Linked DNA regions of Homo sapiens. The protein of the gene in region 3 interacts with the protein of the main gene of each other region in a biochemical or structural test. Each region holds a gene or a part of one and is shown on either strand. Other genes may lie near its edges. The genes, in order: CRK, NHERF1, PDGFRB and CAV1.

What was found.
Region 1: the proteins of PDGFRB (region 3) and CRK form a complex in vitro, tested with the Homo sapiens proteins (one study listed by BioGRID).
Region 2: the proteins of PDGFRB (region 3) and NHERF1 form a complex in vitro, tested with the Homo sapiens proteins (2 studies listed by BioGRID and IntAct, with this or other methods).
Region 4: the proteins of PDGFRB (region 3) and CAV1 form a complex in vitro, tested with the Homo sapiens proteins (one study listed by BioGRID).

What each region holds. Positions count from the first base shown.
Region 1 is NC_000017.11:1,453,204-1,460,311, reverse strand, and holds the start of CRK (adapter molecule crk), read left to right. Parts: upstream 1-4,079; 5' UTR 4,080-4,194; coding exon 4,195-4,435; intron 4,436-7,108. UniProt on the Homo sapiens protein: Involved in cell branching and adhesion mediated by BCAR1-CRK-RAPGEF1 signaling and activation of RAP1.
Region 2 is NC_000017.11:74,751,593-74,758,628, reverse strand, and holds part of NHERF1 (Na(+)/H(+) exchange regulatory cofactor NHE-RF1), read right to left. Parts: intron 1-7,036. UniProt on the Homo sapiens protein: Scaffold protein that connects plasma membrane proteins with members of the ezrin/moesin/radixin family and thereby helps to link them to the actin cytoskeleton and to regulate their surface expression. Necessary for recycling of internalized ADRB2.
Region 3 is NC_000005.10:150,113,332-150,117,874, forward strand, and holds the end of PDGFRB (platelet-derived growth factor receptor beta isoform 1 precursor), read right to left. Parts: intron 4,520-4,543; coding exon 4,287-4,519; intron 2,616-4,286; coding exon 2,432-2,615; 3' UTR 508-2,431; downstream 1-507. UniProt on the Homo sapiens protein: Tyrosine-protein kinase that acts as a cell-surface receptor for homodimeric PDGFB and PDGFD and for heterodimers formed by PDGFA and PDGFB, and plays an essential role in the regulation of embryonic development, cell proliferation, survival, differentiation, chemotaxis and migration.
Region 4 is NC_000007.14:116,556,000-116,561,679, reverse strand, and holds the end of CAV1 (caveolin-1), read right to left. Parts: intron 2,735-5,680; coding exon 2,393-2,734; 3' UTR 501-2,392; downstream 1-500. UniProt on the Homo sapiens protein: May act as a scaffolding protein within caveolar membranes. Forms a stable heterooligomeric complex with CAV2 that targets to lipid rafts and drives caveolae formation. Mediates the recruitment of CAVIN proteins (CAVIN1/2/3/4) to the caveolae.

The DNA.
Region 1 (7,108 bases), on a different chromosome or scaffold from region 3:
GCAGGACTGTGTTATTCCTTAGACCATAATCCACAGCTTACTGCTTTTTTAAAAATGTAGATTTCTGCCAACCCTTCCTCCCAATTCCTATCTCAGAAAATTGAGGGTAGAGCAGAGTGACCATAGCTGTCTCTCCTTCCAGGATTTGAACCCTAGCTCCTCACTCTGCGACCATGTCTCTCTGGACACATTACTTAAACTCTCTGAGCTTCAGTTTTCTCTTTTGTAAGATGGGGATACTTGTCAAATAAGGTTGTTGAGAGGATTAAATGAGATGATCCATACAAAGGCAGTCAGCACTGTGCCTGGCAGATGGTCATCTCTGAATCAATGTTAGCGGTCCTGAATGCTTCTGGAGCACCTCATAGACTAGCTGCTTGGCCTTTGAGGACATACACAGAACTGCAAATGAAAAATTACAGTAAAATGGGTAAGAGCTGTCATGGGAATAATTTGGACATACTGCTGTTGATGAAGAGAGGGAGTGATGGGATGGTTAAGAAAGGGAAGACATTTGGGCCGGGTGCGGTGGCTCACGCCTGTCATCCCAGCACTTTGGGAGGCCAAGGCAGGCAGATCACAAAGTCAGGAGATCAAGACCATCCTGGCTAACACGGTGAAACCCTGTCTCTACTAAAAAAAAAAAAAAAAAAATTATCCAGGCGCGGTGGCGGGCGCCTGTAGTCCCAGCTACTCGGGAGGCTGAGGCAGGAGAATGGCGTGAACCCGGGAGGCGGAGCTTGCAGTGAGCCAGGATCGCGCCACTGCACTCCAGCCTGGGCGACAGAGCGAGACTCCGACTCAAAAACAAAAAAAAAAAAAAAAAAAAAAAGAAAAAGAAAAAAAGAAAGGGAAGACATTTGAATTTGAGACTCCAAAGTGGGTAGAAGAACATTCCAGGAAAAAGAAACCCAGCATTCACATAGGAGCAGTTAAACGAGACTGTGGACCAGCACAGTGGTACCTCTATAATCCCAGCTACTGAGGAGGCTGAGGAAGGAGGACCCCTGGAGCCCAGGAATTAGAGTCCAACCTGGGCACCATAAGAAGACCTCATCTCTTTTTTTTTTTTTCTGAGACGGAGTCTCACTCTATCGCCCAGGCTGGAGTGCAGTGGCTCGATCTCAGCTCACTGCAAGCTCCGCCTCCTGGGTTCACCCATTCTCCTGCCTCAGCCTCCTGAGTAGCTGGGACTACAGGCGCCCGCCACCACGCCCAGCTAATTTTTTTTGTATTTTTAGTAGAGACCGCGTTTCACCGTGTTAGCCAGGATGGTGTCGATCTCCTGACCTCGTGATCCACCTGCCTCAGCCTCCCAAAATGCTGGGATTACTGGCGTGAGCCACAGCGACCAGCTGACCTCATCTCTTAAAAAAATGATGATTATTATTTTAGAGAGGTGGTCTCACTCTGTCACCTGGGCTGAAGTGCTGTGGCATGATCATAGCTCAATACAGCCTCGAACTCCTGGGCTCAAGTGATCCACCCGCCTCAGGTTCCTGAGTAGCTGGGACTATAGCTGGATGTGCCACCACGCTCGGCTATAAAGAAAAACAATGTTTTTTGAGATGGAGTCTCGCTCTGTCGCCCAGGCTGGAGTGCAATGGCGCGATCTCACCTCACTGCAACCTCTGCCTCCCGGGTTCAAGTGATTCTCCTGTCTCAGCCTCCCGAGTAGCTGGGACTTCAGGCACCTGCCAGCACATCCGGCTAATTTTTTGTATTTTCAGTAGAGATGAGGTTTTGCCATGTTGGCCAGGCTGGTCTCGAACTCCTGACCTCCTGGCCTCCCAAAGTGCTGGGATTACAAGCATGAGCCACTATGCCTGGCCAGAAAAAATTTTTAATTAAAAAAAAATGAGCCTGGCCAATATGGTGAAACCCCGTCTCTACTGAAAATACAAACATTAGCCGGGCGTGGTGGCGGGTGCCTGTAGTCCCAGCTACTCGGGAGGCTGAGGCAGGGATAATCGCTTGAATCCGGGAGGCGGAGATTGCAGTGAGCCGAGATCACGCCACTGCACTCCAGCCTGGGCAACAGAGCAGGAATCCATCTAAAAAAAAAAAAAAGAGAGAGAGAGACTGTGGCCCAATTTTATGCTCTGAGCTAAACTGGGAGTTTGAACACCTGAAGACTGTTAAAAGTTTTACACAAGGTAGCAACACATTCAGATTTGTATACATATATATATATTTTTGAGACAGGATCTCCCTCTGTCACCCAGGCTGGAGTGCAGTGGCATGATTTCGGCTCACTGCAACCTCCGCCTCCTGGGTTCAAGCGATTCTCCTGCCTCATCCTCCTGAGTAGCTGGGATTACAGGCGCCCGCTAACACACCTGGCTAATTTTTGTATTTTTAGTAGAGACCGGGCTTCACCATATTGGTCAGCCCGGTCTCGAACTTCTGACCTCAGGTGATCTGCCAGCCACAGCCTCCCAAAGTGTTGGGATTACAGGCATGAGCCACGGCGCCCGGCCAGATCTGTATTTTAGAAAACTCAGTGGGAGTTGTTTGCAGTGCGATTAGGGGCAGCCAGACGAAAGAGCACCAGCGAGCACGACACTCGTAGGAACACAGTCCAGAGGCAATCATGAGGGCAGTGAGAGTAGGAGATGCCCCTGGCTACAATTTAGTGTTTAGAATTATCTGGGCAGGTGACCCCAAAGCCTCAAAAGAGAAGAGAACTCTGTACTTCACGTGGCTTGGTACACTCTGCTCCCTTTGCTTTGAATGTCCTTCCCCGCCGAGTGCGGTGGCTCACGCCTGTAATCCCAGCACTTTGGGAGGCCGAGGTGGGCGGATCTCAAGGTCAGGAGATCGAGACCAGCCTGGCTAACACGGTGAAACCCCATCTCTACTAAAAATACAAAAAGTTAGCCGGGCGTGGTGGCGGGTGCCTGCAGTCCCAGCAACTCGGGAGGCTGAGGCAGGAGAATGGCGTGAACCCGGGAGGCGGAGCTTGCAGTGAGCCGAGATCACGCCCAGGCACTCCAGCCTGGGCGACAGAGCGAGACTCCATCTCAAAAAAAAAAAAAAAAAAAAAAGAAAGAATGTCCTTCCCCATTTGTCATTCAGCAGTCAACACATGCTGCCTCCTCTGGGAAGCCCTCCTGGATTACTCCATAGACTGGCTGTGGGGGCTCTGCTCTGTGTTCATGTCCGTTTCCCATGATAGCGTTTGTCAGCATTTGTCATCCTTTTGTCATCCAGTTTCCTGGTTCCTCTCACTGGTCTGTGAGTTCGAGGAGTGCAGGGCCCAGCCATGATAACCTTTGCACCCGCAGTGCAAGTGGAGTGTCAACAACAATGTCCTAGGTGAATCAATGAAAATGAGAACGTCAGCTGGTCTGTGGAGAAGCTAGAGGAACGAGCAGAAACGGACCGACGTGGCCGGGCGCGATGTTTCTCGCCTGTAATCCCAGCACTTTGGGAGGCCGAGGCGGGCGGATCACCTGAGGTCAGGAGATTGAGACCATCCTGGCCGACATGGTGAAACCCCCGTCTCTACTAAAAATACAAAAAACAGCCGGGCGCGGTGGCTCACGCCTGTAGTCTCAGCTACTCGGGAGGCTGACGCAGGAGAATCGCTTGAACCCGGGAGCAGTGAGCCGAGATCGCGCCATTGCACTCCAGCGTGGGCGACAGAACAAGACTCCGTCTCAAAAAGAAAAAGAAAAAAGAAACAGACTGATATCGCAGGAAGCCTGGCCGAGAACTCAGGCCCCAGGGCCACACGCATCTTTTCTCCTCCAATTCTGTCTGGGAGTCGCTGCCTAGAAGTCCCAGGTCGTCCAGGAACCGGGGCCCAGACGAGAAGCACCGCTCTGTCCGCAGCGCAGGCGCGCGTCTCTGCGGGAGGCTGCGAGGCCCCGCCCCTCGGGCCCTAGACCCCGCCTCCCATCCCCCGCAGCCCGGGCCCGGGAAGGGCGGCACCGCCCATGAATCCGCATGCGCAGTGCGCGCGCGAGGGCGCCTTGCCCTTCTCCCAATGGCGGGCCGCGGGCCCCTTCCCGGCAGCCTCCCTCGGGCAGGGAGCGCGTCATTTCCGGAGGGGGAGGCCCGCGGCTGCCGCCGCCATTTCGGGCGCTGCTGTGAAGCTGAAACCGGAGCCGGTCCGCTGGGCGGCGGGCGCCGGGGGCCGGAGGGGCGCGCGCGGCGGCGGCACCCCAGCGTTTAGGCGCGGAGGCAGCCATGGCGGGCAACTTCGACTCGGAGGAGCGGAGTAGCTGGTACTGGGGGAGGTTGAGTCGGCAGGAGGCGGTGGCGCTGCTGCAGGGCCAGCGGCACGGGGTGTTCCTGGTGCGGGACTCGAGCACCAGCCCCGGGGACTATGTGCTCAGCGTCTCAGAGAACTCGCGCGTCTCCCACTACATCATCAACAGCAGCGGCCCGCGCCCGCCGGTGCCACCGTCGCCCGCCCAGCCTCCGCCCGGTGAGGGACTGACGGGACGGCGGGCCCTGGGCGGGGTGAGGGCCGCGGAACTCCCAGCCTGGCTGGCTGGTCCTCGAGAGCGGACCCTCGGGGGTCGTGGGCAGAGGGCTGGGTGACCGTGGCAGGGGCCCGCCGGCTGCTCGGGCTCGCTCTCACCCGGGGAGCAGGAGTGTGGGGGAGGAGGAGCCGCGGACCGAGGCCCCGGGGTGTGCCTGGGGAGGGCAGCCGCGGGGAAGGGGAACTGCTTCGGCCCCAGGGTGGGGCTGGCTCCCGGGCCAGGCGCAAGGGTAGGGCAGGGCAAGGCAACGTGGGGACAAAGAGCTGAGGGAGATGTTGGCACTGCGGGGGCATCACTTGGCAGCGGCGCCCAGAATGAATCCGATAATCCTACAAGTGGCTTTTAGGCTGGAAACGTTTCCTGCCGTGTTGGAGAGCCGGGTTTGGCCGTGCTCCCCTGGTGGCCTTTGGTAGGAAGTCACCACATACTGGCCGGGAGGGATGGAGACACCCTCAGGAAACCGGTCAATTTTTTCCTTTCTTGGGCATTTTTCCAAAATCTTTGTACCGTTCTCTTCCCCCGTGGAGGACGAAGGTGGTGAACTAAGTGCTAGAAGAAATAGTGGTAGCAGAAAGCCTTCAGTGACCAGCCCAACCCAGTTTAAGGCGATGCCTGGCTATGTGCAAGAGATCTAAGCGTCCAGAAGACTGTCCGCCGTTAGAGAGTTCTGGTTTTCAAAGTGTTTAGTGGAGGAAAGACATTTTATTCCACAAAATAAACCAGAAGTGAGGCAATGGAAACAGACCCTTCCCTGTAAGTGACTGGAACTTCATTTTCCTTGGACTTAAACATTGTCGGTGTGTACTTCAGGGCGTCACCTTGCTCAGTAAGATGGGGCTGCGGGCTGAGTCTTCCTGGATATTGGGAACAGACTCTACGCCAAGAACATAAATTACCTGCGCTGGGTTTTCCTTGCCAGGGAGGGATCCCTGAGATTGACTGTCTTACCGATGCCGTTGGAGTTGATTTGGGACTGTTTTAAGGGAATAGATAGATGCCCTTAGTACTGGAGATTTGTGAGGTACAAAGTAATTCTGGGGTTCTCATTGTATGTGTACCTGTGTAACAGCATCAGGAGTCCTCGTGCCTTCACGCTGTTGCCAAGTCGAAGCAGTTTCTTCTTGGCCAGCTGAGAATGGGTTCAGACTAGTCTCATATGAATCAGGAAGCTCTTGAGCCGTCCTTTGTAGACTTGCCCTTGTAGAATAGTTCTAATTTAGATTTACTCGCTCCGGCCAGAAATAGAGAATTGGATAGGCAGTCTCTTTGTTAACACACACCAATTTTTATTTTACTCTTTTCTAAGACGGAGTCTTGCTCTGTCACCCACGCTGGAGCACAGTGGCGCAATCTCGGCTCACGGCGATTCTCCTGTCTCAGTCTCCCAAGTAGCTGGGATTACAGGCACCCGCCACCATAACCAGCTAATGTTGTATTTTTCGTAGAGACGAAGTTTCACCAGGTTGGCCAGGCTGGTCTCGAACTCCTGACCTCAGGTGATCCACCAGCCTCGGCCTCCCAAAGTGCTGGGATTACAGGCAAGAGCCACCGCGCCTGGCCAACACATACTAATTTTTTTAAAATTTTTCTTATTTATTTCTTACTTATTTATTTATTTTGAGACGGAGTCTCTCTGTCGCCCAGGCTGGAGTGCAGTGGCGCGATCTTGGCTCACTGCAACCTTTGCCTTTTGGGTTCAAGTGATTCTGCCTCAGCCTCCTGAGTAGCTGGGATTGCTGGTGTGCATCACCACCACGCCCAGCTAATTTTTTGTATTTTTAGTAGAGATGGGGTTTTACCAGGTTGGCCAGATTGGTCTTGAACTCCTGATCTCAGGTGATCCACTCGCCTTTGCCTCCCAAAATGCTGGGATTACAGGCGTGGGCCACCGCACCCAGCTTTGTTTGTTTGAGGCGGAGTTTCGCTTTTGTTGCCCAGGCTGGAGTGCGATGGTGCAATCTCAGCTCACTGCAATCTCTACCTCCCCGGGTTCAAAGGATTCTCCTGTCTCAGCCTCCCTAGTAGCTGGGATTACAGGCACACTCCACTACGCCTGGCTAGTTTTTGTATTTTTAGTAGGGTTGGGGTTTCGCCAAGTTGACCAGGCTGGTCTCGAACTCCTGACCTCAGGTGATCTGCCCACCTCAGACTCCCAAAGTGTTGGGATTACAGGCGTGAGCCACCACACCCAGTCTAACACAACCATTTTTTAAAAATGAGTATGGGGTCTATAAGCTCACAAATTATCCTAGATCTTTCTCATTGTGGCCTGTTTAATAGTATTATGAGATGGGAATATTGATGTACCTGTGTTGGCCCTGAACCAGATATATTCTACTTTGATGCCACCTGCATAGTATCTGGGGTTTTGCATTATATGTCGTCACATGATGGCAAACTGTCATTGAAACTCACTTTTCAGCCTTTTGTTTGTGTTTGTTGGTTGCCAAAGTTGAAAATGGCAGCAGGCAGGTTTGTTAGTTTGATATTTTTTCATATCTTAGCATAACGATTTTATGTCTCAACACTTACCGTGATAATCGAGCACCACCTTTTCAAAACAGATAAGAACTCAGTTCCTTGGCTGAGGAAAGACGGTGAAGATTGCCAAAGTT
Region 2 (7,036 bases), on a different chromosome or scaffold from region 3:
AGGAACATAGCCCCAGTGAGTTCCGGAGGGCAAAGTGGGACCTCCAGTGACGACGACAGCCTGGGAGACCCAAGTTCAAGACAAAATCAGGATCTGCTCAGAGAGGAGACTGGCAGAGAGCCAGAATCAACAGGAGGGAACATGAGGCCATGCAGCCGATGGGCAGCGCAGCTGGGCCGGGGTGACCCAGGGCTGGACAGGCTGGAGACTCTCACTTTCACAAAATGCTGGCTGGCTTTCCAGAAAAGACCCTGCCCGGAGAGCTGCCCCCACACCCTTCTCCCGGGGCCTCCTCCACCCTCAGGCTTCCTCCCTTCATCTGTCCTTTCCCCCAGGGAGCTTCACCGCGCCCTAAGTGGCCGCCCCATCACCTCCACCCACGCAGTCCAGGGAGCGGATGGCGGGCACGGAATTCAATAGGCGCCACCAGCAGTCACCTGGAAAGCTGGGGAAAGTCGATACCCTAATCCCAGTGACCGTCTCTGGGGAACAGGCCCAGGGCCGCTCCCTGCTCCTCCTTCCTCCCTTCAGGGAAGGCTGTGGGAGCCTGGGGGCCAACGCCCCATTGGGCCCAGCCCCTCCCTGGCTGATGCCATGGTGATGGGCCCTACAGAAACAGCCCAGCCCGCTTCCTTCGAGCCAGCTAGCTCAGGACCCCAGAGGAAAGGGGCTGGAGGAGTAGGAAGACCACTTGGGTGTCCAGGGGAACAACAGAGGTAACCCCACCTCTCAAGACTGCCCCTCCCCCAGCCCAGGGCTCTTGTTTATGCAAAGAAGACCAGTGCCCCATGCCCAATACAGGAAAATCAGCCCCAACAAGAGGATGGAAGGGGGCAGGACGGCGGGGGCAGGAAGGAACCCTGGCTGTTCTCAGGGGCTGGGGTGTGTGTGTCAGGAGTATGTTGGGTGTAAGAGCCATATTTGCTCTGGGAGACAGCTCAGTTTGTTCCCCAGATTCTGGAGACAGGGCTGGGCCTGGTGCCAGCTCTTCAAGGAAGCCAGGATGGAGACAGCTGGCCCTGCCTGGAGTGCTGTGTGACGGGCAGCCTGGGGGCACTGGGAAGTGACCAGGGGCTCCAGGCACTCAGCCAGTGTCCACACCTCTAGGCAGAAGGTGTCTTCTCCTTACCCTAGGTGAGGTACAGGGGGCTTGGCTGTCACTGGCCCCCTGCGTAGTGGCCCTGATGTCACCTCATTTTACTCTATGGGACCCCCTTCCACCCTCCACATCCCTCCAGGTCTGTGCGGGCGGCAGGGGAATGTTGGATGTGTCCATTTTAAAAAAAGTCACTCACTGCTCCTAGCCCTTGATCTCTTCCTTCCTATTTCTCAGTGGGAAGAGCTTTCCCTGGAGTCTGGTAGGGTGGGAACCAGGAGGGAGACACAAACTAAAGTGAGGTCTGCTGGTCTGACAGACACCCCCAGGACTCAGAGGTCTGAAACAGGTTCTCCTTCTGGCTAGTAACCTCTTCTCCCTGTGCCAGCCATGGAGACCCACGGGGGCAAGAGGGGGCAGAGTCTGGCTCAGGTCTCTGCAGGGCTGGGCAAGCCTGGGATGGAGCAGGCTGGTACCTGGGCTGCAGCCCGGCTGGACACCATCCAGGGCTGGCCGCCCCATGCCTTCCCTGCTGCATCCTTCCTCATCCCTCACCCTCCTCCCAGAAGTCTCTAGATTTAACCCCCAGGGGTTGTCCCAAGGGGCTATTAAGAACCTTCAAGGAGCTTGTGAAATTGGGGCTCAACACTGAAGTAACAAATAGCAGCTGCTATTTACTGAACACCTACTATGTGTTAGGCACCGAGCTCTTTACATGTGTTTTCTTCTTAAGAGCCAATTATAGTCCTAAAAGGAAAGTATTATTGCCAGCATTTCACAGAAAAGGAAACCCAGCTTCAAAAAGCTGGAGTCAGTTGCTCAAGTACACATGGCTGACGGGCAAAGGCAGGATTTGAGCTCAGATCCAGAGCAGCACTGTCCAGTAGATATATAATGCCAGCCATGTGTGGAATGTAAGATTTTCTAGTCATCACATTTGAAAAAGGAAAAATAGGCCGGGTGCAGTGGCTCACACTTGTAATCCCAGCATTTTGGGAGGCCAAGGCAGGTGGATCACCTGAGGTCGGGAGTTCAAGACCAGCATGGCCAACATGGTGAAACCCTGTCTCAACTAAAAATATGAAAATTAGACATATGTGGTGGTGCACACCTGTGGTCCCAGCTACTCCAGAGGCTGAGGCACGAGAACCGCTTGAACCCAGGAGGCGGAGGTTGCAGTGAGCCGAGATCACGCCACTGCACTCCAGCCTGGGTGATAGAGCAAGGCTCCGTCTCAAAAAAAAAAAAAAAAAAAAAAAGAAAGAAAGAAAGAAAAGAAAAATAGGCCAGGTGTGGTGGCTCATGCCTGTAATCCCAGCATTTTGGGAGGACGAGGCAAGTGGATCACTTGAGCACAGGAGTTTGAGACCAGCCTGGTCAACATGGTGAAACCCTATCTCTACTAAAAAAGAAAAATACAAAAATCAGCTGGGCGTGGTGGTGCACAGCTACTTGGGAGGCTGAGGCAGGAGAATCGCTTGAACCTGGGAGGTGGAGCTTGCAGTGAGCCGAGATCGCACCACTGCACTCCAGCCTGGGCAACAGAGCGAGACTCTGCCTCCAAAAAAAAAAAAAACAGGAAAAATAGTAGAATTGAATATTTTATTTAACATAATGTACCCAAAATATTATCATTTCAATGTGTAATCCATTTTTAACAATTGAGCTATTGTACATCCTTTTATTTGTACAATGGCTTCAAAATCTGGTGTGCATTTTGCACACACAGCACGTCTGCATGTGGACCAGCACATCTCGAGTGCCCGGGAGCCTCGCGAAGCTGGTGGCTGCTGCCCGGACAGCACAGACCTGTGCTGCCTGAGACTGCCCCAAACACACTCCTCTAAATACCCCTGGCCATTGCTGTTCCCCTGACCTTAGCACAGGGAGAGGCTGCAGCCTGTCTCGGAGAATTCAGAGCTCTCAGCACCCAGCAGTGAGTGGGACTTGAACCTGGCCAGCATTCTCTGTGTGTTCCCACACCACCCCGAGGTGACCTGGACCTCAGGGAATCTGTAACTCTTGTCCTTTTCTAGGGCCTAGGGACCTAAACATTGCCTAGGAGTCTGGGGACATGGTGAGTTGTCCTACCATGAGGGGAAGGCTTCGGTCAACAGTGAAGACCACCCTTGAGGGGGGCTCTCTGTGCAGGTTCTGGGGAGTGAGGGCGGGGGTAGATACTTGGTTACCAGATTCCAGATTGACCTATCACATCACGTGAGAAGGGATGGGGACAGGAGCCTGCCACTTATGGGCTGAGGCACTGCAAGGATGCCCTGCTAGGGACAGGAGCACCTGGAAGCCCTGGATCCTTACAGGAAGCCAGTTCAAGCAGCCTGAATTTATACCACTGTGATGGTCCAGCTGTGGCTCAGAATATGATGGGCAGAAACACCTGGCAGAGTCAGGCTTCAAGCACAGCCTACTCATGTGGCCAAATGGCTGTGCAGGCACTAGAGTCAGAGGGTTGGGTTCCAAGACACACCCCTGCGCTGTGTGGGAGGAGTCGCTAGCTCAGAGTCCTGGGACCCGCCATGGCCACCTTAACTGATCAAGCCTCAGCCTCCATAGGCAGAGAATGGGGCCAATATCTGCCTCACTGGTGGTCATGTGGATTAAATGAGACAGGCAAGGTTAGTACTTAGCACAGTGCTAGACACAAATAGTAGCTATCATGTATTGAACACTTACTGTCAACCTACAAAATAGAGAAAACAATAGCTAATTTGTCTGGGGGACAATGAAATGCATATTGGCTGGGTGTGGTGGCTCATGCCTATAATCCCAGCACTTTGGGAGACCGAGGCAGGTGGATTACCTGAGGTCAGGAGTTTGAAACCAGCCTGGCCAATGTGGTGAAACCCCATCTCTACTAAAAATACAAAAATTAGCAGGGTGTTGTGACAGGTGCCACCCAGCCTGGCCACCGTGGTGAAACTCCGTCTCTACTAAAAATACAAAAATTAGCAGGGTGTGGTGGCGGGTGTTTGTAATCCTAGCTACATGGAAGGCTGAGGCAGGACAATTGCTTGAACTTGAGAGACGGAGGTTGCAGTGAGCCGAGATCACACCACTGCACTCCAGCCTGGGCAACAGAGCAAGACTGTCTCAGGAAAAAAAAAAAAAAAAAAAAGAAAGAAAGAAAGAAAGAAAGAAAGAAATGCATGTCAACATCTTTATGTCATAGGTAGAGTGCCTAAAGGCACTGTACAAACCTGTTTCCTTCCAGGTAGGGCCACTCTATCTTAGAGCAACGAAAACAGAGGAACATTTGTTATTGGGGTCTAGAGCTCTGGTTTCTCCCTGTAAAGAGTCCTGCAGCACCAACAAGACCTCGGCTGAGCTTCTTCTTTCTTTTTTTTTTATTTTGGAGATGAGTCTCACTCTGCTGCTCGGGCTGGAGTGCAGTGGCGCGATCTCGGCTCACTGAAACCTCCACCTCCCAGGTTCAAGCCATTCTCCTGCCTCAGACTCCCGAGTAGCTGGGATTACAGGCACCTGCCACCACGCCTCGCTAATTTTTGTATTTTTAGTAGAGATGGGTTTTTACCATGTTGGCCAGGCTGGTCTTGAACTCCTGACCTCAACTCCTGACCTCAACTGATCCACCCGCCTCGGCCTCCCAAAGTGCTGGGATTACAGGCGTGAGCCACCGTGCCTGGCCTGAGTTTCTTATTAATTTCCCACCCCACTTTCCCAGGGACCATTGAGATGGGACATCTGGGAAAGGGGAGAAGGACCCCATCTAGACATATGGAGTTCCTTGAGAAGGAAGCCCCCATTCACCCCCCTCCCCCTGTTTTTTTGGTAGAGACGAGGTCTCACTATGTTGCCCAGGCTGGTCTCAAACTCCTGGGCTTAAGCGATCCTCCCGCCTCAGCCTCCCGAAGTGATGGGATTACAGGCACAAGTCACTGCGCCCGGCCAGGAAGCCCCCATCTATCTCCAAGAGAATCATCTCCAGAATTACTGAGTTAACAGGAGCTTGAAGGTAAGAACCAGGGGCTACACTGTTTTGCCAGCAAAGAAAGAGATCCCAACACACAAACAATCACATACCCTGTCCATTTCAAATCCAAACACCCAGCAGCTCAAGCTCTGTTCTGCCCTACCAGAGCTCCAACTTGGTTGGTGTAAAATGGCCCGCCCGCCCTGGGAAAGAGGTTGATGGCCCTCCAGCTAACTGTGCCCCACCACCCACCTTGCTCCCTGGGGTGCCTGCACTCTGACTCTGGGATCAGGGTCAGGGCTGGCAGGAAACACCCCAAACTAGCACTTTCATTTACAAACCTGTCATGCCACCAAATCTTCCCAATAACCCTGCAGGCAGTGCCTTTCACAGAGGTGGAGGCTGAGGGTTGCAGGGAAAAATGAACTCCCAGGATCCCAGAACCAGCACACGGCAGAGCTGGGATTCAAACACTGATCTGGCTGACCCCAAAGCCTGGACTTTTGGCTTTCTAGTTTTCAAATAGAAGCTGCTAGCAGGCAAGAAAGAAGAGTGGGTAGGTTCTATCTGGAATTCCAATCTCTGGGCGGGGCGGGATGAGCTGAATGAGGACAAAGGTCCCTGACTGTTGTTATATATTCATTCATTAATTCAAAAACTGTTTTTGAGAGCCTCCCTACCATGTGCCAAGGACAGCGCTGGGGATAGAAACACAAATAGGCCACAGTTGATGCCCTTGGGCTTACCACGTAGTGGAGAAAAAGGTCACAAACAGATGATTAAAATATTGTGTGTTTAGAGCGATAAAAGATGTAAGGACAAAGAGGAGGCGGAGGCCGAGGCTGGCAGATCACCTCAGCCCAGGAGTTCAAGACCAGCCTGGGCAACACGGTGAAACTCCATCTCTACAAAGAATTTAAAAATTAGCTGGGAATAGTGGTGCATGCCTGTAGTCCCAGCTACTAGGGAGAATGAGGTGGGAGGATCGATTGAGCCCTGGAGGTCGAGGCTGCAGCGAGGCGAGGTTGCGACACCACTCCAGCCTGGGTGGAATCTGTCTCAAAAAAAACAAAAACAAAAACAAAAACAAAAAAAGTGAAGGAAAGGAAATGCTAACTCTGCCTACTGGATTAAGGACAGGCTCCCTGGGAGGGGACAGAAGTGTCAGGGTGTGAAGGCTTAGAGGCTAGAGGGGAATTCGGACCCTGGGTGTGGTTTTGGGGGTAGGGAGGCAGTGGTGAGAACAGGCTGCCAGATGGAGAAGGGCCATGGAACAGCATATAACTCTTAAAAAAAAAAAAGAAAAAATTTAATAGAGACAGGGTCTTGTCATGTTGCCTAGGCTGGTCTCAAACTCCTGGGCTCAGGCGATCCTCCCACTTTGGCCTCCCAAAGTGCTGGGATTACAGGTGTGAGCCACCACACCTGGCCACAACGTATCATTCTTAACCCACAGTGACCATCGATCAGGCACTGACTGTGTGCCAGGCTTGGCCACAGTGGCATTTGCCCAACTAGGCAGGCTGACCCAGCGCTAGCTGCCCCATGATAGGTGTGCAATGATCACTATGAAATATGTATTCATTCCAATACCAACTGCAAAGGCTGGCTGAGCCTGGACTCAGTGCCAGGCACTGAGCTACGTGCTTTACACACAGCCTCATGCAATTCCGAGGTAGCTGCCATAACCCCCAACTTACACAAGAGGAAATGGAGGCTTACAGAGGTGAGGTAACTTGGCTTCGCACAGCCTGGCTAGTACAGCTGAGCTGGCTCGGCTCTGCCCGGCCGGCACTCTGAACCCAGACTCAAGGGTTTAGGCCTCATCCTGTGACTGGTGGTGAATGGGGGGAGGAGGGCTTTAAGCAGGGGAACAGCAGGGCGGGTCTTGCTGCTCCTCTCTCCCCACGGGGCAGGCGGGGAAGGCCATCCACAAAGCAAAGCCGGTGGGCAGAGCTGGAGAGCCACTTCCACCTCCTTAGGCCTAGACT
Region 3 (4,543 bases):
ACTTCGTGCTCTCACGCTTTTGGACACTCTGTCTGCCCTTCTCCTACCTGGGGCCTGATCATGACTCACCTGGACCTGGAATCTGGGCTCTAGCAGCTGCCTGTCACAGAGCACGCCGGCCTCAATCCGGGCCTGTGGGCGGAGTGGAGGGGAGGGTGTCCCAGCTGATAGCCAAAGCCAAAGCACATGGTGGAGGCAGTGAGACGCCTCAGCACCAGAGCCTTGGAGCAGCCCTGCAGCCCCACACCCTCCTGCCCGACTCAAGGCCAGGCTCTGTGGAGCCAGAAAAGCCTGCTCGCTTCCCACCTTGGGAAACCAAGCCCAAGGTCTAGGCCCCCCAGCTTCCAGCGAGGGGTGGGAGAGCGAAAATCCCCACTTTACAGATGAATGAAATGAGACTCAGAGCTGAAGGGACCTGTCTGGGGGTCTGCGTCTGGGTGAGCCTCATGTGCCCCACTCCACACTCCCTATGGGCAGGAACCCAAACCCGAGAGAGACCACAAAGTCTGTGAGTGAGAAGCACCAGGTTTAATATTAAAATCTTTCCCTTAAAAAAAAGTACACAGATAGAAAAACTCAACAGCATACAAAATAGCATTTCTGCTGTATAAATGTGAGTTAACGTGAGTCCTAAAAATATTTGTAAACCTAGGTGATTATATCTTTGGTACCGTATTGAGAACCCACTCTCCCTCCTTGGACCAACTCTGGGGATCCCAGGGAAGTAAGGTGCCAACCTGCAATGCAGGGTTGGTGCCCAGAGGGGTTGAGCTTCCTGCACCCCCTTCCCAACCCTCCCCGTGCGGGGGCGTCTTGGCTACAACCCTGACTCCCCTGGCACCTCCAATGCCCACTGGGCTGGGGACAATGAGATGTCACTGCTAGGTCTGGGCAGTGACAAAACCATACCCCCATGGAGCGCTGCCTCAGGGATGGGGCAGCTGGTGGGTGAGGGGCAAACCTCCAAAGCGCCCACCTCTCACATCCTTCTTGGGGTACCCATCTGAAGCTTCTTGTCTTTTACAAGACATAACTGTCCTCACTGTCCATTCTGTCTTCGACGCAGACCTCGGCACAGGTGCTGGAGTGGTGGGCTGCAGGAGGTGATCTCATTTGCCCTCTTTGTCCCTTTTGCCCAGGATACCCCCGGAGGTCATCGTGGGTAGTGAAAGAGGTCCCGTGGTCTTCCCATGTCCCTGGGGCAGCTGCTGGGGGCTTTCCAGGACACCGGCTGTCACTCTAAGTCAAGGCCTGTGCAGCTGTGTTCTTGAGACTTGCTGGGGGCCTGGGGAAGGGGCATGGTTCCTGAGTCCCCAGAGTGTGATGTGTGATCTGGAATCTCCCAGGAGCCCAGCTGACCCCCAGGATGGAAGTTTAGGGTATATGGCCTTGCTTCATCTGGACAAATGTGCAACCACCTGGAATACTCTAGAATGTTAGTGCTGGCAAGGCACTCAGAGTTAATAAGTCCGACTTATTCATTTTTTGAAGGGGAAACTGAGGCCCAGAGAGGGTGAGGGATTCCTCCAAAGCCTCATAGCAGGTCCAATGCAGAGCCAGGGCCATATACTGGCACACACACGTGGCCACTCCACACTGGCACATTTACATTCTCATCACAGATGCGGGGCCCGTCTGGCCTTCTAGACTCTGGTGGATGGATTAAGACTGAGGGTGATAAAGAAAAAGCCCCAGGACTGATGGGCCTGAAGGACAGGGACACAGGCACTTGCTATGGCTGCGTGTGCTCCAAGTGCCCTGGGCAAGGGCTGCAGGCTGGGGGTGTCCTGTACTTGGCTCAGCCTCCAGCATTAATTAGGCTGCCTAATGGCCCCAGACCAGCTCGGGCCAGGGAACGCAGGGACTGGCATCATAGGGAGGAGACTGGCTTTCTTCTGGATGAGGCAACACTGCTCAAGGCTAGGCCCTAGCTCAGCCAGCAGCCAGGGAGGCTAGGGTCTCTTCCCTAGCTCCTGGGTGGATAAAAGTGCGAGGAGAGAGCTATGATTCCTTGAGGGGTAGCTGGCTGAACAGAAAAAAGTTAATTTACCACCTCAGTAACTCCAAGAATCTTCCCAGGGAGGGATTCGGTCTCCCCACCTGTCAGCCAGGGAGAGAATCCTAGATTCTGGGTCATCAAGCCTAACTTTCCCATTTTACATATGGGAAAACTGAGTTCCCTGGGGGAACCCTGGCTCAGAGTCAGTTGGCCTCCCTGGAGGCAGAGGGCTGGTCACGGCCCCTGCAGTTTTCTTGCCTCCTAAGCCAGCCCCAGGGTTTGGGGCACAACACGTCAGGAGCAGAAAGCTTCCAGAAGGGGACAGCTGATAAGGGCAGCCTGGCTGACAGGAAGCCCGGTCAGGCCAGGCCAGGAGATGCTGGGTGCTGGCAGGGGGGGAGCTTCAGGCAGGGCAGGGTAGGGGCCAGCCCCCTACAGGAAGCTATCCTCTGCTTCCGCCCGAGGCGCAGGGCACCCCGAATCCGGCAACTGTTCCAGCTCTGGCTCCGGCTCCACCTGGAGCTCAAGCTGGGGCTCTGGCTCTGGTTCGTCCTGGGGCTCCAGGGGGCTGTCACAGGAGATGGTTGAGGAGGTGTTGACTTCATTCAGGGTGGAGCTAGAGGAAAGAGGCAGTGAGTGAGGGGCTAGGAAGGAGCCCAGGAGGATTCCAGCAGCAGTCATGAAGAGCCTTCGGTGTGTCCACCCCTGCACCGTAGGCTTCACACACTCCGGCTCATTTAACTCTTGTGAAAACTATGCAAGGCCTGCACCGTGAGGAAAGTGTGGCTCAGAGAGGTTATATCACTGCCCCACTTCACACAGCAGGGAAGTGCAGGAGCTGGAACTTCGGAGCAGGGTCAGCTGGCTCCAAAGCTCGTTTCTCACCCACCAGCATCTCCCTCCTCTGCACTCCTAAAGGTGTATGCTATCTCATTTAATCCTTGCAATGACCGCCTAATAGAAGTACTTTTACTGTTTGTATTTTACAGAAGAAGACACTGGCCGGGCGTGGTGGCTCACATCTGTAATCCCAGCACTTTGGGAGGCCGAGGCAGGCGGATCACCTGAGGTCAGGAGGTTGAGACCAGTCTCAACATGGAGAAACCCCAACTCTACTAAAAATACAAAATTAGCCAGGCGTGGTGCTGCATGCCTGTAATTCCAGCTACTCGGGAGGCTGAGGCAGGAGAATTGCTTGAACCTGGGAGGTGGAGGTTGCAGTGAGCCGAGATCGCGCCATTGCACTCCAGCCTGGGCAACAAGAGCGAAACTCCATCTCAAAAATAAATAAATAAATGAATAAAAATAATAAAAAAAAAAAGAAGAGGACACCAATGTTTAGACAGTGAAGCAGCTTGTCTGAGGGCACAAAACAGGGTGAGCATTCACACCTCAAGCTGTGTGAGCGCTGCACTTCACTCCTCTGCACCATCCACTGGGACTCTTGGATGGTTGGCCTCTTCAACAGTTAGAGCAATGAGGGCCTTCGGAGCCTTCTAAGGCCGGTGTGCACTCCTGGCACATATGGAGAAACTGAGGCTCGCAGAGGAGAAGCCTTCCCAGGTCTCAGCGGCTAGTGGCAGAGTTGGGACAGTACCCCAGCCTGGGGCTCCAGCCACTTCACCTTGGGCTGGATCTCGCTTTGGAGGTGGGCGTGGCCTCATGGGGAGCCCTTCTCTCCAGTTAAGGGGAGATCCTGCGTGGACATCAAGTCCACACAACAGCAGGGTCCTCCTATAAAGCCCCCTCTGGGCTGTAACTTCACCACTTCCCAAGGCAAAAGAAAACCACGAATCTCCTTCCCAGTCTGAATTCTGTCCTGAATTCCTTTAGGCACCTCTGACTCCTACAACCAAGCAGGCTCCCTCTGGCCCCAGGGCGTGGTGCTGAAGAACAGAACATAGGCCTCAGGCTGGCCATGAGTAACAGCTGGGGTGCTGGGGATGCTAAGTAGGTTTGCTTCTTCTTTTTGGGGCTAGGACAGGACCTAGAGATAAGAGAGTATAGATAACCTCTGGGGGCTCCCTTAAAGGAAATAGCTACCTTGCAAGTAAGTCCCAGCCCATACTTTTGTTTTTACTAGCCTGCCCTTTCCACCTCAGGGCATCAAAGTTCAAATGAGTTCCATTCTGTCTTCTATTCATTGGTAGGGATAAGTACTTACCCTACGTAACTTACCTCTGAGGCAAACCTGGCAGCGCGCGCGCGCGCGCGCACACACACACACACACACACACACACACACACACTGTGCACAATTTCCTTGGCCCCAGGCCAGGGTGGTTACCTGGCTAGGCTGGGGGAACCCTCCAGTGGGCCCTCGTCAGCAACCTCGGGTTTGGGGTCAGGCAGGGGGATGATATAGTCGTTGTCACCCTCATTGGGCTGCACGGCAGTATAGAGGACGGAGCTGGTGTCCAGGGGAGATCGGAGGCCATGGAACCCAGGCAAGCGGGCCTGGGACCGAAGGATGGCTGGGTGGTCACTCCTCAGAAACTCCTCATCCACCTGCTGGTACTTCTGCTCCCGGGGCAGGGAGAACCA
Region 4 (5,680 bases), on a different chromosome or scaffold from region 3:
CTATCTCCAACTATCTCCTATTGGTTTTGTTTCTCTGGAGAACCCTAATATAGGAGTCCTGAAGGTAAACTTAGCCAAGCAACAAACATAAATTGAGACTGCAATATACCTCTTTAAAACCCAGTTAAGGCATGGCAAAGTTGAAGGCATTGGCCCCGAATGCAAATTGTGTCTTTCGCTAAGTTAAGAGTATTAATATCCATCACACAAGCTTGCTGGGGGCTCAAATTAGATGACATATAAAACATTGGGCAAATTGCTAAAAAAACTTTGTTATTAATTATAACTTTTATCTGAAGCAACTCATAAATGGTGATGACCTTAGCAGAAATATCCTAAGTGACTTTGTAATAATTTTAAAGTGGGAGACCATTACCCCCCACAAACACATACAAACACATACACACACTATGCACATGCTCATTACATACAAATACATAGACATACACAGACTCTGACACATAAACACCTGTTTTGGGAAAAAATAATAAAGCTGACTGTTTAACCGTTAAACATTTTTATTGTGCAGGCTTGTAACCTTTACAGGACATGCATGATAAAAAATTGTAAAATATATCAGTAAGCATATAAAATTTCAGCAATCTTTTGGACCAGTAATTGATTTGCATGAGGGACTAAGCATCTATGTAGAACAGACATGTCTTGGAATACACAGTTTACAGATTGAATCACAAAGCCATTTCCTAAGTGATTTTCTTCATATAAAGATAAAAATATCTTTACATTTAAAAAGTATGCAGTATAGCACATTTTCAGTTATGTACACAGTTTAAAAGTAAAACTATATCCATGCCAGTGTCTGTTTTAAATGCAAAAAGTCAAAGTAGGTAACAGGTTGGTAATTAAAGTGTCAGGAAGACTGGAAGAGGCAAAAATCAAGCAGAGTTCCAATAAGTGTATGAAAAAAAAATCATAACTGAAGGTTTAAGAAAAGTCCCCAAAGGCAGAATCACAATATGAGCAGGAGGAATAAAAAGCTTTTGGATATACCAGGCAGCTTTCTGTACGACTCAGGTTTACAGGTGAAATTCCTCAGTTTGAGTTCAGAAGAATTTGAACTTATTCCAGCAAAATACTTCAATCTTTTTATTACTGCCTCCTCCCCCATCTTCTTTCTGGGCAAAGGGATGCTTGGATTAGGTCCAAAGCTCCTGGCAGGGGGAGGGGCCATGTGTCACAGCATAACAGACGGTTGCAAGTGCTTTACTGAGCAGGGGTCAGGTTTGCAGCAACTCTGATAGGCTCACACAATGGCCTCCATTTTACAGCCCCTCCTTGGAGGCCCACTGATCAGCTGAAATGGGAACACAATGTTGAGCCACTAAACCACCCCGGTGATGGATTAGTTTGGATTCAGGAAAGCGTGATTATTCTTGAAAATAAACGAAGCTGAATAGACATGCTGACCTCATTCAGTTGATGAGAGGCAGGGAAAGCTGGCTTCCAGGACTGCCAGCCCACAGAGAGCTCAGCCCTATTGGTCCACTTTAATTCATTTCATTGGGCTAGTGTCAACCATACCCACTACGGATAAAGATGTTGCCAGATGAAGCCCAGAAGTGAGCTTCACCAGACTCTGTAGCTCAGAGTCAGAAACACGCATGGAAAACTAGGTCATGGATATTCTAATTTTGGTCTTCAGGGAGGCTGCTGACCTAAAGCGAGTTGCTGAGTTAGACCCTATTTGAAAAGGAAAATGTGAAAAACAGGAAGGCACTGAGGTCTTGTTATCTACATAACAAATATTCAGGCACAGAAAATATCATAGGTTAAAATTTCAAGAAGAGTAAGGCATTAGTTGGATCATGAGAAGGCAGAAGATTATGTTTTCTAACTTGTAAGGATCACTGGATCCTACTGGATTATGAAGTGAATGGCAGTAATCCACTAACTCCTTAAACAGTGGGAAAAGAGTTTGCTGAAAATCTGCCCACATACTTGTACACTCCATGGCCATACCCTGGAATTCTTCCCTTAACATAAAATGACCAACATTTTGGAGTAGGCAGTTGAGGTTGTTGGTTCTTTTCTTTTTTTTTTTTTTCCTCCTCAGTTCTTCATATTTCTCTCAAATTACCTTTCAACAATATGTTCATATCTCAGCCAATAAAGCGATGGTTGATCCACATGCAAATAAAAAGGTAAGGAAAAAAATTTAAATGGGTTTTAAAAATTCAGACTGCCAAAAATAGATGAAATAGCTCAGAAGAGACATAATACTTATGAAAACTGAGAAAGTGATCTTTTTATTTTCAACCAAGATAATTCAATTCATAAATTGTTGCTGTATTAGCAACTTGGAACTTGAAATTGGCACCAGGAAAATTAAAAGGAAAAAAAATCAGGTATACTTCTATCCTTGAAATGTCATTTATATTTCTTTCTGCAAGTTGATGCGGACATTGCTGAATATTTTCCCAACAGCTTCAAAGAGTGGGTCACAGACGGTGTGGACGTAGATGGAATAGACACGGCTGATGCACTGAATCTCAATCAGGAAGCTCTTAATGCATGGTACAACTGCCCAGATGTGCAGGAAAGAGAGAATGGCGAAGTAAATGCCCCAGATGAGTGCCATCGGGATGCCAAAGAGGGCAGACAGCAAGCGGTAAAACCAGTATTTCGTCACAGTGAAGGTGGTGAAGCTGGCCTTCCAAATGCCGTCAAAACTGTGTGTCCCTTCTGGTTCTGCAATCACATCTTCAAAGTCAATCTAAAAGGAAGAAGTGACACAACATGAGCACAGAATAGAAGAAAAGAGAAAAAAAACCCACTATTCAGTATCCATAGACATATACTGTATTAGCATTTATGAGTTCGTTCTTTGTGAGATGCTTAAAGGCAACCAGCAGCATCAGCATCACTTGGAACTTGGGAACACAGATTTTTTTCATTTTTATTTTTTTGAGACAGGGTCTTGCTCTGTCACCCAGGCTGGAGTGCAGTGGCATGATCATGGCTCACTGCAGCTTCGACTTCCCAGGCTCAAGCAATCTGTCTGCCTCAGCCTCTTAAGTAGCTGGGACCACAGGTTCATGCCACCACACTTGGCTAATCCTTTTTTTTTTTTTTTTTAAGAGATGGAGTCTCACGATATTGCCCAGGCTGGTCTTGAACGCCTGAGATCAAGGAATCCACCCACCTTGGCCTTCTGAGGAGTTGGTATAATAGGATGAGCCAATAAGCTGACCTGAAACACAGATATTTGGGTTCCCCTTGGACCTTATTATCTCTCAAGGGTGGAACCCAGGATATTTTTAAACATGTTCTCTAGGTGTTTCTCTACCACACAAAAGGTTGAGAACTACAGCTCTAGAGAAAACCAAATGGATGTGATTAAATTTCTTGACTTAAAGTAAAACCCCCAAACATGGATAAGGATACGAGGCACTCAGTACAATGTAAGGAACATGACATAATTTAACTGCCTTTGAAGACAACTACACATGCAATGTTAAGGGGCAGTTAGTTGATAATCGGTTAACAATTCTTCAAATGCCCAATTAGCATAATTACTTCAGGAAATTAGATCATGGTGTGCTGGGAGGCATCAAGAAGGCTTCATGAGGTGGGAGATTTGAGCAGGGCTTGGGCAATTGGCTGATTTGGAGAGGAAGAACAATGGGACGTTGGAAATGTGTCAAAGCCCCAGGAACAAGCAAGGGTGTCATAGTAAGTGTCTCAGGCAGAATAGACCTGTGTCACCGAGGCTGGAAAGACAGGTTGAGGCCAGACTGAATATTATTTTACAGACAGTGGGGTCTATGGAAGATGTGGGAGCAGGGGAGTGTAGCCACAATCGATGCAGTAGTTTATCAAGATGAGTTTGACAACCGTATGCACACTGGGAGAAGGAGGAAAGAGACTCAAGGCAGGGAGACTGTTGCTGTCACTCAAGTTTGAAGGGCCAGGACTGGAAAGGTGGTCATAAAAAAAAGAAAAGAAAAGAAGGTTCCAGAGATGCTAAGGGAAGAATCCACAGGACTTGGTTAGCTCAAGGGTGGGGATGAAAGGAGCTGGAATGCAAATTTGGCCCCTTTCCCAATAGCTCTCCCAGGTACATGTTCACCCAAACAATTAATTACAGGAAGTTTTATCCCTCTGTAAAGATTTATATAAACTACACTGAAGCACAGGATTAAAAACAGAATTACCAACAGAAAGGTAGGACAGAGCCAGTGCAACTGCTTGGCAGTGACAGCTATAGGAGGGGATTTAATGCAGTTTGAAATCCCAACAAGTGGATGACTGACAGCAGCGACTCAGGCAGGCTCAGGATTAGGGAATGAGGACTGCCATGACTCCACGGAGCTACTCAGTGCCAAAGAGCCACCTTTGATTCAACAAAATAAAATGTCTTCTGGAAAAAGCACATGATGCTTACCAATTTTTAAAGTTTATTTTGTAGAACATTCTGTTTCTTGACTTATTGTCCAATGTTCTAATAATGTAATGTGAAAAAAACGGCATGGCCACAATTATGTAAGTGAGCTTAAGTAGATGTATTGTCACTCATTTTTCTTCACCCATTTGGATCTAGACACAGGGTAAACATTTAGTTGTGTGTTTTAAAAGGTGGCAAATACATGGCAAATCAGGTCAATACTTTTATGAAGTTTCTGTGCAAATTATTTGTCTATTATGGGTTTGTGTTCTGACACTGCATTCTTCCCAAAACTATCAAAAATAAGGGGCTCTGGTTTTCCTGCATTCAACTGCAAGACACCTAAAGAATTTTATTTTTTAAAGATGTCTTTGTTTTGTAAGAGGATTTGAAGGCAGAATTAAAATACTACAGCAGGTGTTCTTAATCTGGGGTCAAAAGATGGGCAATGGTCATCCATGACTGCCCTGAAATGGACACACATTTTGAGTGTATAATGGGAAATGATCCATCACCTTTATTAAAAAATAGTCTATTACCAAAGAAGGTTAGGAAGCAATTTACCGGGAGCAGAGGATTCCTACCTCTTTACAGAGCAGACCCGAAGCAGGTCTGCCTTGAGATTCTTTTCCTAGGAGGGGAAGAGTTGTGAACATTTGTTGACTAGTTGTGATCAGACACTGTTCTCATTTAACTGACAACAACTCTATAATATAGTATTCTCACTTTATAGAAAAAATGTGAGGTTCAGAAATGCTAATGAGTTGTCCAGGTAAAAGAGAGGTAGATTTGAGGCTTAAATCTGGTCTGAAAGTTATCAACTTTCTTCAATATTGTACCACTTTACAAAAATGGTTTTCAAATTTTATCTAAGGTGAGTATGCTATTTCATAATTAAAAGGCACGTTAATAAAAAAGAGTTTGCCAAATTTAACCCTCTGGTAACTGCAACAATTCTCCCGGCATGTTCTTTGAGGACAGTGTTACACCATATACACAATTGGTCCTTAGTGAAGATATTTAAAAACATGAGTGTGTAAGATTTCTTAATAATAATTCTATTTTTCTAAGCATAAATTCAAATTATTTTTCAATGAATACATAGGAGATTCTTACACTTTCTTTTAAGTTGCTTACTAAATTTCTGGATGCCTGCATTTTCAGTGAAACTGCATTTTCAGAAACTGCTAGTGAGCATGATTTATCCTCAAACGTCCAAGTGAATTTAGAGCAGGTCTCCAGGGGTGGAAAGCAACATGACAAAAATAACATGTT